Regions from separate parts of the Homo sapiens genome. Here all the other regions are linked to region 2. The links come from fine-mapping of genetic effects on gene expression. A gene starts in region 2. Each other region holds a variant in brackets. All regions are shown on one strand. Distances are from middle to middle. Region 1 overlaps NDST3 (N-deacetylase and N-sulfotransferase 3). Region 2 holds the start of SNHG8 (small nucleolar RNA host gene 8). Region 3 overlaps PRSS12 (serine protease 12).

The links. PIP is the estimated chance that this variant, and not a neighbour inherited with it, causes the effect.
Region 1: its variant is fine-mapped to the expression of SNHG8 in whole blood (INTERVAL, PIP 0.93).
Region 3: its variant is fine-mapped to the expression of SNHG8 in cerebellar hemisphere (GTEx, PIP 0.96).

What each region holds. Positions count from the first base shown.
Region 1 is chr4:118,230,137-118,234,136 of GRCh38, reverse strand. It overlaps NDST3 (N-deacetylase and N-sulfotransferase 3), which reads right to left. Exons shown (of 14, transcript NM_004784.3): 9 at 1,002-1,125. Among named protein-coding and RNA genes, the nearest start is that of SNHG8, 47 kb to the left of the region's middle. The variant A/T (reference allele first, on the strand shown) is at 1,662.
Region 2 is chr4:118,276,180-118,280,541 of GRCh38, reverse strand. SNHG8 (small nucleolar RNA host gene 8) reads right to left here and starts at 1,780. Exons shown (of 3, transcript NR_034011.1): 1 at 1,750-1,780; 2 at 1,111-1,153; 3 at 719-918. PRSS12 (serine protease 12) reads left to right here. Exons shown (of 13, transcript NM_003619.4): 13 at 1-504. SNORA24 (small nucleolar RNA, H/ACA box 24) reads right to left here and starts at 1,352; the gene lies at 1,222-1,352. RefSeq lists a silencer at 1,953-2,002 and an enhancer at 2,073-2,252.
Region 3 is chr4:118,332,627-118,336,988 of GRCh38, reverse strand. It overlaps PRSS12 (serine protease 12), which reads left to right. Exons shown (of 13, transcript NM_003619.4): 3 at 1,338-1,516. Among named protein-coding and RNA genes, the nearest start is that of PRSS12, 18 kb to the left of the region's middle. The variant A/G (reference allele first, on the strand shown) is at 2,318.

The DNA of each region.
Region 1 (4,000 bases), 46 kb after region 2:
CCTGGCCACTGTCGATGGTTTCTTGATTTTCCAGCTGTTATGTAACACCACACAATTAATCAATATCAAACCCTGAACTGAAAAATTGGCAGTGAAATATATAACAATTAGAATATATGTAAATCCTAGTAGGTGCTCAAATTATACTCAATCCATTTCTTTTCCTTTCCATTCGGACTTCTCATAAGCAGCTCCTCAGGGGGCTGATAATTATAAAATTGAGATCATGCAGTTTGACAAGAGATATATATGACTATGCTAAAATACATGCAAAATATATTTATGCTGCAGAATTATTATAATTCACTCCTTTATACCACCCTCTGTTCAGCATTATACCTTCATAGCAAGACCTTCAGAGACATTTTATGGTTAACATGTTAGTTTGTACCATCTATCTCTACTACATTACTGTATTTTGTGTATTCTGACATTTTTAGTTTTTAAGTGTTTGTTCAGATGGTTGATATATTTCTAATTTTGATTCAAAGGCAAGAATTAAATTCTGTGTATTGTTGATAGTTTTTTTTATAGCTTTGATTACTCATGTAATATACAAACATTTCTAGTTTTATTTATTTATTTTTCCTTTTATGTGACAAAGAAAATAGAAAATTACATATGTTGGCTGTAGCATCACTTCATAAAAAGTGCACAAGAAGAAAAATATATGAAAATTTTTTTTCCTTACGAGTAGAAAGGAATTAAATTTCTGAATATTATGCTATTCTTCTGACTTAATATCTATAATTACCATCAAAGAAAATTAATGCCAATTGAAATTACATGTGATCCTCTTGGTATAACAAGTCTCTTTATAAACTGAGAAGAGTTTGTTCTGAAAAATTTCTGAGCCCCTTTATGATATTCAATCAATTTCCAAGGCACAGAGGTTAAATTTTATTTGTGACTACAAACTTAGATGTTTCTAAATATTAGTGCTAAGTTTATACTGTGCACAGTACATATACTTTTAGATTTATACTAATAACCCATCTTACCAATCAATCCCCCTGTGGTAGTTATTTCTATTAAAGAACTGTACCTCCTCAAAGGTTTTTGGGCTGGGGGAGTTACTAAGGATGGAAGGATGCATAACCAGGAACAAATACAAAGCAGTGGTACCTAGAAAGACAATAGAGGTTCAGAAATTAATTAAATGAAAACACAATTTCCTATGATCAACACTTTAAAGTCATGAATAAATATTAGAATGATCCAAACAGATTTATTACAACTACTGCTGGAAATAAATTGAATAGATAATCGGCAGTTTAATAGAAGCAGGTTCTAAAAAATGGAGATAGTGTGGTGTGAAAAGAGGCCTGTTGCAGGGATTGAGAGAACTGGCTTTCAATCTCAGCTCAATGACTGATTTGTCTGTGACTTTGTCTTTTAGCTTCTGTTTGTCTCAGTTTTCTTTTTATCTTTTCTTTCTTTCTTTGTTTCTTTCCTTTTCTTTTCTTTCTTTCCTTCTTTCTCTCTCTTTCTTTCTTTTTTTTTCAGCATCTTACTATATTGCCCAGGCTGGAGTGTGGTGGTGCAATCATGGCTCACTACAACCTTGACACCAGGCTCGTGGGATCCTCCTGTCTGAGCCTCCCAAGTAGCTGTGACTACAGAGATGCACCACTGTGCCGGGCTAATTTTTAATTTTTTTT[A/T]AATTTTTAGTAGAAATGAGGTCTCACTGTGTTGCTCAGGCTAGTCTTGAACACTTGAGCTCATGCAATCCTTCCACCTTGGCCCCCTAAAGTGCTGGGATTACAGGAGTGAGTCACCTCTCCTGACCTGTCTCAGCTTTCTTAATGGAAAATCACCTGCCTACTTATTTCATAGATTTTCTCTGAGAATGAAAGAACATGTACTTGAAGACATTTTGACGGTAATAAGGCACTATATAAATGAAATATATTATTATTTAACATATTACATTACCAAAATCAATACTTGGGTTCTCATATTAAGTTCTTCCAGAGGCCTATGAAAGCTAATTAAACTCAAGACAGAATTTAATCTTTCCACAAGTTTGCTTAAGCTTCAATGTACTTAGTAGTGTCAAAAATTGTTTAAATTGCTAAATTGGAAAAAAAAATGGTGCCCTTTCTTAGCGACATAACTTATAGAATTTGCATTTACTAGGGAAGAGAATGGTGTATCACAGGTACGTATATATATTTGTGACTATTGGGGAGCAAGGGTGTGATTTTTCAAAAAGTGAGCAATGTCATAAACTGTACAGTTAGGGTTTTATAAGACTAAATGAGGAGATAAAGGGTGTAGCTTAGTCAGATTGGTACAAGAGAAAGTAAGGCAGTTTGGGTTCAGTTTGTCAAAGATTTAGCCATGTATTTAATACTTGTAACTGTGACTGTGTTTAAAAGATCATAATATAAAAGTATTTCTATATATTGGCTACTCCTAAGAGAGAAATATACTATTATTTACACTGTTATACAATCTGTGGAGCAGGACTTGATAATTATATTCCAAGTCAATAGCTAGCAATAGTAACAAGACATGGCCTTATAATATTTCTCTCACTTGGAGAAATTACTCTAATTATGCTTAGTAATTATGTCATGTTGCCATTTGTACAAAACTTTGAATTTTCTTATTTTTCAGGTAAGCTTTCTTTATTATTTATTTACTTAAATGGTATTAATATGGTATTATTAATAGTACTAATTAAATAATAGTAGTATAAATAGTATTAAGATGATAGTATAGTATTTACTTAAATAGCATTAATATGCTAGTATTTACTTAAATAGTATTATTATTATTATTTATTTATTTTTTTTTAGATGGAGTCTTGCTCTGTTGCCCAGGCTGGAGTGCAGTGGCACGATCTGGGCTCACTGCAACCTCTGCCTCCTGGGCTCAAGCGATTCTCATGCCTCAGCCTCACAAGCAGCTGGGATTACAGGCACCTGCCACCATGCCCAGCTAATTTTTGTATTTTTAGTAGAGACGGGGTTTCACCATGTTGGCCAGGCTGGTCTCGAACTCCTGACCTCAGGTGATCCGCCCACCTCAGCCTCCCAAAGTGCTGGGATCACAGGCATGAGCCACTGTGCCCCGCCCTTAAATAGTATTAATATGGAAGTAAGGTAGTATTTTAGTGTTTATTTACTTAAATGGTACAAATATGGCAATATTTAAGTAAATAAATACTATTTAAGTATTTATAAATTAAGCTTTCTTTAATATTTACTTAAATCTACCATATCTATACAATAGAAAAATTGTTAAAATAACTCTGTCAACAGCAATATTGTCTTAAAAAATGAATTGAAAGAGGTAGTCTTCCTAGATTATATCTGAGCCAAACAATGAACAGTTTGTCTGTAATCATAGATCATTATAGGGAATAAAACAGTAATCTATGATATACAAAGTAAAAATGTGCTTCACAAGCTTGCCTTAAAACAGTGGTCCTCTAACTAGCATGTATCAGATTCATCTGGGGGCTTGTTAAAACATAGCACAGCCCTATCCCAGTATCTCTGATTCGGTAAGTCTTTGTTATAACCCAAGAATTTCACTTCTTTTTTTTTTTTTTGAAACGGAGTCTCGCTCTGTTGCCCAGGCTAGAGTGCAGCGGCGTGATCTCGGCTCACTGCAAGCTCCGCCCGCCGGGTTCACGCCATTCTCCTTCCTCAGCCTCTTGAGTAGCTGGGACTACAGGCGCCCGCCACCGCACCCGGCTAAATTTTTGTATTTTTAGTGGAGACGGGATTTCACCGTGTTAGCCAGGATGGTCTCGATCTCCTGACCTCTCATGATCTGCCCGCCTCGGCCTCCCAAAGTGCTGGGATTACAGGCGTGAGCCACCGTGCCTGGCCTGCACTTCTAATAAATTTTCTGGTGATGCTTATGTTGCTGCTCTGGCAACCACCCTTGAGAATCACTGACTTAGAATAACTATGAAGCAATATCTAAAATTTATTGGAGGAAAAAAGCTCCATTACATGAAATCCACGGTAAAGTAGAAAAAGCA
Region 2 (4,362 bases):
TGCCCTTCTACATCAAATTACATCCTTTTCACAAATCCCCATTTCTGTAATAACTGGTGCAAACCTAAAGGTGCTTTATAGTTTTACTACTTTGCAGATTTGCAATGCTGCATATAATGCAGAAGAGCATTAAAAACTTTTGTAAAAACTCATGATTTTGATAAACTTTTAAAGTAGCGTTTATATGTAAATAGAACTACACATGGCACACACACTTGCACAAGGGCTTCAGAAAAACGTGCAATATAGGTGAGAAAAATGTCTATTGAAACTTTCTCACAGGCTGCCCTTATAATTAAACTAGTGTTGGGGCAAGCAACATCTGTTTCAAGTAGATCAGGGACTAGCAAACCTAAAAGGCAGCAAGCAGCCTGCAGTTTGCTCAATCCTTAAGAATACATGGTTCATACAACATGCTTTTACTATGTCTTAAGTGTGACTTTTGAAAGATACAAGTGTTCTGTGCATATTTGTGTAAATAAATACATAATTTTCCACCTTGTATAACTGCCTTAAATTTTTGTATGGTTTAAAAAGAGTCTGCTGTCTCCCTTGGGGGTAGCCTGGTAATTTTTATATTTTACATTTTTCACAAAGGCTGCAATTACCTTAGAACTGTACTCACACTACTTCCACATGAGCGTGTAACACTAAATAGGAGGTATTATGCTATTAACTACCTTTCCGTCTATTAATCACTCAGTCAAGGAACAATGAGTAGCCACATGAATTAAGCATTTTATTTAATTATCACGGACCACCTTAAATATTACTTTACAAAATTCAGGCCTATATTTAAAATAGGTGTCCTGATAACTTCCAGGATATTATTCGGAACACCCGTTTCCCCAACTACGATAAGTCCATTGCCGGATGCTGAATAAACTTCGCCCATTACCACTTGGATTTCTTGATAGTCTGCAAGAGAAAAAAAGCATTATAAAACTCCGAGCTGTGTACTTACCTCACTGTTTTGAGATCTTATCAGCTAATTCAGTTGGTTGTTAACTCAAACTACAAAAGCCAGCAAAACGGGCCAACTTTAGCTTTCCAACGTCCTGCCGCTAAGGCGTTTCAGATTAACTCAGAAATATCAAAAAAGAAATGTACCTTATGTTTCCATCATCCATCGTAATGTGTTCAGCTCAGCTTCCTAGAAACATTGAACAACGGTTTAGAAATTTTGCCCAATAACCCGGCACCCTCTAGGTTTTTAACAGTGAATGTTACTTGTGCAAGTCAGAATCTGATACCAATTAAATGGTGACAGCTTTGCCAATAAACAAGGATATGCTCTTCCATGGCTAGGAAGGGAGACTGCCACGGCTGACAGGTCCCAAAGATACATGGAGATTCACAATCCAGAATTAACCAGCAACCAAACTGCTACAGGTTATTACTCACCATCTGGCTCAAACTGACGGTTCTCGGGGTGCTAGGGCACAAGAGCGACAGAGTAGACTCAAGATGGCCACATGACACAGACGGCTGAACAGGCTTCACCGGAGTCCCCGAGTGCACGGAACCTTTCCCCGAGGGCCCACGGCCCACGCACGCCGGGGTTCAGGGTCCAGGGCTGCACGTGGACGCCCGGCGACCTAATGAGCACTCAAGTCCGCGCATGCTTGTAAACTTAAGGGTTTCCAAAGCCGCCCCCGACCTACCAATATCCTGACTGCGCTGCCTTTTAGGTAAGGCAGTAAGTTTCGGCCCAATTATCATTTTAACTTACGAAAGACAACTACGTACTTTCACCTAATCCCGACGCTTCCCGAATGTGAAAGGCCGAGGCCTTCGGCACACGCTCTCTTATAGAACTGATGACGCTATTCCGGGGGAAGCGCCGCGAGGGGCGGAGCCTATGCTGTTTCACTCCCCGCCCCGCCTAGCCCCGCCGCGGCTCCACCTGTTCCGTCTACCACCCCCTTCGCGGCTCCTTTCCCCCCTCCCCCGCACATGGTCCACGTCTGAGCGGGTCACCTGGCTCCGGATCCAGACGCATGCGCACATACGAGAGCCAAAAGGTTCTCGCATAGCGAAAGATCCTGACGCTTACCGGTGTAGGTCACGAAAGCGAGGGGGATTTTTTTGGTATTTCCTGTTTAGGATACTTATTTTAGACAATATTAGAAAAAGGGGCCGAACGCGGTGGCTCACGTCTGTGATCCCAGCACTTTGGGAGGCCGAGGCGGGCGGATCACTTGAGGTTAGGAGTTGGAGACCAGCCTGGCTAACATGGCGAAACCCCGTTTCTACTAAAAATACAAAAATTAGCCTGGTGTGGTGGTGAACGCCTGTAGTCCCGGCTACTCGGGAGGTTGAGGTGGGAGAATCTCTTGAGCCCGAGAGGCGGAAGTTATGGTGAGCTGAGATCGCTGGTTAGCATTTTACAAATTACCTAATCACTACTCAAAAACAAGAAAAGTCTGAGAAACTATTATGCCAGAGAAAATGATGCATAATGATTAAATGTAATGTGGTATCCTGGCTGGGATCTCCAGCAGAAAAAGGACATTAATGGAAAACTAGCGAATCTGAACAAAGTGTGGAATTTAGGTAATAGTGCCAATACCGATTTCTTTATTGTGACAGATATACCATGGTATTGTAAGATATTAATGGTAGGGGAAATTGGATGAAGGGGGTGTGGGGACTCCATTTTTGCAAATTTTCTGTAAATGTAAAACAAAGTTTAACTTAAAAAAGCAATTATAACCTTACAGTCTATTATACTTTCATTTTAAGACAAAGTAGTGATTTAGTAGTGGTTTCTATCTACTTTAGTGTGAAATTTGTGGCTGAGATGACAGTATTTCTAAGTTTGACTTGAGATCAAACCCAATGAATTTAGCTGCATTCAAACCAAGGCTTTGAGCCTTTGGATATTCAGGAGAGACAATGTGGTAACAAATAAAAGAATTAAAAATTGGTTGGTAAATGAAGATTGGCTTAAGGATTTTATTTTATGTATTTATTTATTTAGAAACATTCTTGCTCTGTTGCCTAGCCTGGAGTGCAGTGGCATGATCTTGGCTCAGTGCAACCTCCACCTCCTAGGCTCAAGCGAGCCTCCTGCTAGGCGTGTGCCACCACTTGGCTACTTTTTTTTTAAGGTTTTTTTTTTTTGAAAGACAAGCCCTCACTATATTGCCCTCAGGCTGATCTCCTGTGCTCCTGGGCTCAAGTAATCCTCTTTCCTCGGCCTCCCAAAGTGCTAGGATTGCAGGTGCAAGCCACTGCGCCCAGCCTAAGGATTTTAAAGATAGAATGCAAGGTGAACCTGTTAGAACTGATCAAATGATGGCTAGGTAACATTTCAGTTCTGCTTTTGATACATGGAGTGAACAGTTCATTATAGAATATTTATTCTTCAACAATGCTTTTCCCTGCACTATATCTTTTTTCCTTTTGTGGTTTAGTGTTGAAACTGGTAGTCATCAGAAAAATTTAACATAGAATGGCACATCTGTCATATGAATGCTGAGATGAATAGGAGAAAATATAGTGAGGAAATAACCTGTGGACTTATTTCTATCTTAAAACACTTAGCAAATCTAAACTTCCAGTGTATACTAGCAGCGTGATACTTCTGCTGTAAAAATTGGTTTTGCTGCAGTAATAAAAGTATAGTGTATTGCAGTATGATCTAGTGTTAAAAAAAAAGCATAGTGTCCAAAAGAGAGGAGATGGACGTTCCCTCCTATCTATATTAAAATATTCTTGTCAGTTCTGAACATCTTGTTCAGTTGTTAAACATTTACTAGACTCCAGCAAATGTTTATTGAGCAGACATGGCCTTTGCCTCAAGACTTGAGAATATAATTGAGTAACTTACAGTTAGTGCCATTACAATGTTTTCCAAATCATTCAAAGTTCAAAGCAAAGAAATTAGTTCTTATTTTTCCCTATCCTTTATTTTCAGTATTTGATATATTTTTGTATCAACCAATGTATTAGTTATCGATTGCTGTATATCAAATTAGCCTAAAGCCTAGTAGCTTAAAAAAAAATAAGCACTTACTATCTCAAATAGTTTTTGTTGGTCAGGAATCTAAGAGCAGCTTAACTGGCTCAGTGTATCTTGTGAGGTTGCAGTCAGGATGTTGACTGGCATTGCAGCCATCTGAAGGCTTGACTGGGGCTGGTGCGGCAGGATTCTCTTTCAAGGTGGCTCATTCACAGACCTGACAAGTTAATGCTCATTGTTGGCAGGAAGCCTCAATTCCTCAGCATGTGAATCTCTCCATAGGGCTGCTTGACTGTCCTCATGATTCTCGTGGCAGCTGGCTTTCCTCAGAGTGAGTGACTCAAGAGAGGAAGCTCCAACACTTTTTATTGTGGCCTACACACCATCACTTGTTA
Region 3 (4,362 bases), 56 kb before region 2:
CGAAGGAGTAAGGCCAGAGCCTATAAAGTGTTATGGTGCTTGGAAATGTTAATTACTGATTTTATCATGAATACTTAGTCTGGCAAACAGACAATTGGCAAGTGGGCAGGTCACAAAGAATGATGATTTCATGCTTTTTCCTTTGAGGGGCAAGAGATGTAATAAATTTGTAGGCTGATGTCAATGTCTTCCTTTATATACATACCTATTTGTGCTTTTATTACCCCGGAAAATCAGAAAGGAATAAAATTTTCTGTGAGATACAAAGAAACAAGAACGCTATAGTGGAGGTGTGAACTACTGTGTGGTTTATTAGTCTTTTGATTGATGAAAGTATGTAAACTATTATTCTGCAAACAAACTTCAGATAAGCTGATCCAGCTGCTTATATAGTATCATCTCTCAGTAGTCCATTTAAAAAAAAAAGGAATTGCACGATAAAATCAGAGAAACCCAGCTTTATTGCTGTGAAGACACATTTACATTTTAGATATACCCCAAATATTTACAGTTTGGTTGATGGAATGCTGCAGCATGGAGACAGTTGTAGAGATTACCATGTTAATCAGATAAGCATTTCACCTTTTTTAAAATTTAATGCCAGTTTGTACACAGCAGAGGTTACTTACAAAAATATGTGGATTAGATGAGCTAAAAGCAGAACCCGTCTGTATGCTATTATTTTCATTTTTTCTTTTAAAAATACTCTCCTGGTGTTAGGAAAGAGATGCATGTTGCTATGTTATTAATTGGTTTCAAAGGCTTGCTAGCAAATACTATATACAGTGTAAGGTTTTAAAAATTATAAATGGATTGCCTCCCGTGATATTATTGTGCTTAGATGTAGTAATAATAATTTTGAAAATGCTAGCCTAGAATGTTAGAGTCAGAAAGAATCTTCAAGCATCCAGATTTTTCTTTTGACACATTAGAAGACAAAGCCTTCGAGTTACTTGCAGCTTGGCATGACTTTTAGCTGAGCCCAGACTGGAGTCCAAGCCTCACTGAAGCTCGTGACACACCTCTTGCACACAGCCTTACTTTTTATGTCTGCAGTACTTGGCCATTTTCTTCTAAATCAGTCATTGGTGGTAAAGGCACATAAAGTAGTTATTTAAGATTGATGAAAAGAATTCCATAAGTAGGCAAACCACGTTGTGATCTGATGTTTTGATTTCCTTGAAACTGATGTAGTCTTTTGTGTTTTTCTTCTTTCTTTCTTTGTTTCTTCCATATTCATCTTTGTTGATTTCTTCCATTTTTTTTCAAATCCAAATGTTTTGATAAAAAGTTTTGCCTACATTTGATAAACCTAATATCGCTCATTGTACTTCCAGAGGAAAAGGAATAGCAAAACAAACCCCGTTTTCTGGACTGGGCCTTATTCCCATTTATTGGAGCAATGTCCGTTGCCGAGGAGATGAAGAAAATATACTGCTTTGTGAAAAAGACATCTGGCAGGGTGGGGTGTGTCCTCAGAAGATGGCAGCTGCTGTCACGTGTAGCTTTTCCCATGGTAAAAAAAAGAAAAAAGTTCTGTTGTTTTACTTTCATTATGTTTTAAACGTGATTCCAGATGATGAAAGTGTCTTAGTTATAATCATTTCCTTAAAGACTTTAATTACAGAAATAAGTCTGAGTCAAAATATTTTACCATCTAATTAGTCTTCAATATGAGTACTGTTAATTTGAATTCCATTTGATTTTCCAGTGGTATCTCATTTTTAACATATTTTCTATTTTATATAATTTGCTTAAATAAATATGTATATTCTATAGGTTATATATATACTGTATAATATATTGTATATGAAACACATATTTTAGTCATGGAAAATTATGATGGAATCAAGCTGGAAAATAATCATGAAAGTAAATATAGAATACAGCAAATACAACAAAATATTTTCACTTTGTGTAATGCAATATAATTATGGCATCAGTGTTCTTGGGGCTGTAGAGAGCACCTTCCCTAAAAATGGATTGTTGGCTTGAATGAGGGCTTCTTCCAAGTTCCATAGAGTAGGTATGTGGTAATTATCAGTATGGGTTCAGTGTACAGATATGTTTATATTCATGGAAGTAGAGGAAGGAACAACTGCCTTTAAGATGGTGAAAGAGTTTTCTGGGTACCATGGTGTATTTTAATGAATGATCACAACCTGAAGCCACCATACTCTCATGGTATCCCTTTTTGCATTTTCCTTGGTGATAGCAGCATGACCAGATATCCCAGGACTTGGAATGGTAGCAGTCAGCCCAGGGCAGTGGTTTTTGTTTGAGTACAAGTATCAGGGGGAAGAATAAGGAAGCTCCT[A/G]CCACAAAACAGAGAGACCCATTTTGGAGTAATTCCTCTGGATTGGCTGGAAGAGCCAATGGAGGGATATAGTCCAGGTGTATACTCTGAGAGCTATAATCCTTTTTTTTTTGACTGGGAGAGGCATATGTTAAACCTTGATGTCTTGTAAGTTTTCCCTTTTCTTCTTTTGGTTCTCTACCTTTGGGTAATGCTACTTTTGCTAAATCCAATGCTGCTTCAAGGATGATGTGAACTGGGCCCAATAATTTATTGCTGTTTGTAGATTATTGGTTTTACTCTATGCTCAACCTGATTGATAAAATGTTTTTCAAGTAGTAAAGTAAAAAATTTTAAAAATAATTATAATTTTTTTTCAGGATATCTATCTACATTTTTTACTCCTTCCACCTTCTATAATCTATTCATCTGTTTATATTCTGGTTGCAAAGATAATTTTATGGTCATCTATAAACATATATAAAATATAGAAAGTTATGATAAATTAGAAGTGAGAATTTAAAAAGATTCTCTCGTGGTAGATTAAATGAGAATGTGGAGTTGTATAGCTGAAATCAGCGAACATTGAGTTCACCTTAAGGGATAGTGATAGATCTTTAGTATACTTCCCTTAAATTTGGGAATTACACTTAGTGTCTTGTCATTCTGTACTTGTAGCTTTTCCAACATTTCAAAGTAGAAGATTGCATGCAACTTGGATACAAAAAATAGCAGCAATCTAAATGAAAACGTGGGGAGTTTAATTATCTATAAGCTAAATATGAGTCCATTGATTTACTGAATTTTCTTTCAAATGAGTTTTGTGTTTGTTGGAAGGATGGGGCTGTTAACTAAATCTTGTCCTTGTGCTTTTCTGTATTTTTTATATTTTAACAGTCATCCAAAAAGAAAAAGAAACCACATTTTAAAATAAAACACAACATAGGAAAGTGAAAGGTGGTTATGCCATAAACTGTCTAGGTCCTAGATGGTTTTCAACTTTCTCTTAAAAATTTTTGTTTTTCTGTTTTCTCCAAGCTTAACAGGTGGGGAAAAATATATTAAGAAATGTATACATGTTTTTCTGTATTTTGTAAGCTTTTTAAAGGAAAAATAAACATCATAATTTGTGAGAATTATATTACCATCATTCAGCCATATATATTAAACCTGTCTTTATCCATTAACAAATTGTAAGTGCTAGTTAACTTATGCAAGTAAACAGTATATGCAGATAGTCACTAATCTAAATTTCTGCTACAAAACTCAAATATGAGTGCTTACTTTGGCAGCACGTGTACAAAACTCAAATATGATATTTGAATTTAAGTGTGAATATCCAAATGCCGTTTACTGACTGCTACAACTGTGGAAAATTAGAAACATATTTCATACAGATAAATGATTAGTATTTGGCAAAAAGTACAACTAGACTTCATATTAGAGGACCAACCTGTTAATTTTTACCATATTACGTCCTTTATTCTAGTAAAATTAGACTGCTTTACTCTTTGCCAGACACATTCAGCTTTGTGCTTCTTTCTTTTGTTCATAATGTTCAAGTGGCCTGAACATGCTTCCCTCATCTCTGACTTCCAAATCCCATCTATCTTGGCCCTCTTAAAAAAACAGCTTTTTCACAAGTGATTCCCTAAGTACCCCCAACCATGAGTAAGGTCCTTTGCTTCTGAACCACTGTAGGGTTTTTTGATAATCTCTTGTCTGTACTCCTTTTATCGACGCCCTTAGGCAGTAAACTTCCTGAGGGCCGGGTCTGTCTGGTGTCTCTTCGAATGCCCTGCAGCACTGATCATAACACCTTGTACAAGGCATATGTCTGATATCTGTTTGTTAATCAGAAATTAATGAATAGATGTTGCCAATTATTTTTTCTTGTTTGGAGTGTCTTTTCTAGGTTTATTTAGCATTGCTTGTCAGTTGAGGCAGTCAATAAATAATTATTATATGCCTCTGTATACTAGGTACCTGAAATACATAGGTGTAAAGGAACACAGTATTTCTGTCCTCATTCTAGCCAAGAGGAGTGAGACAATTGACATGTAAAC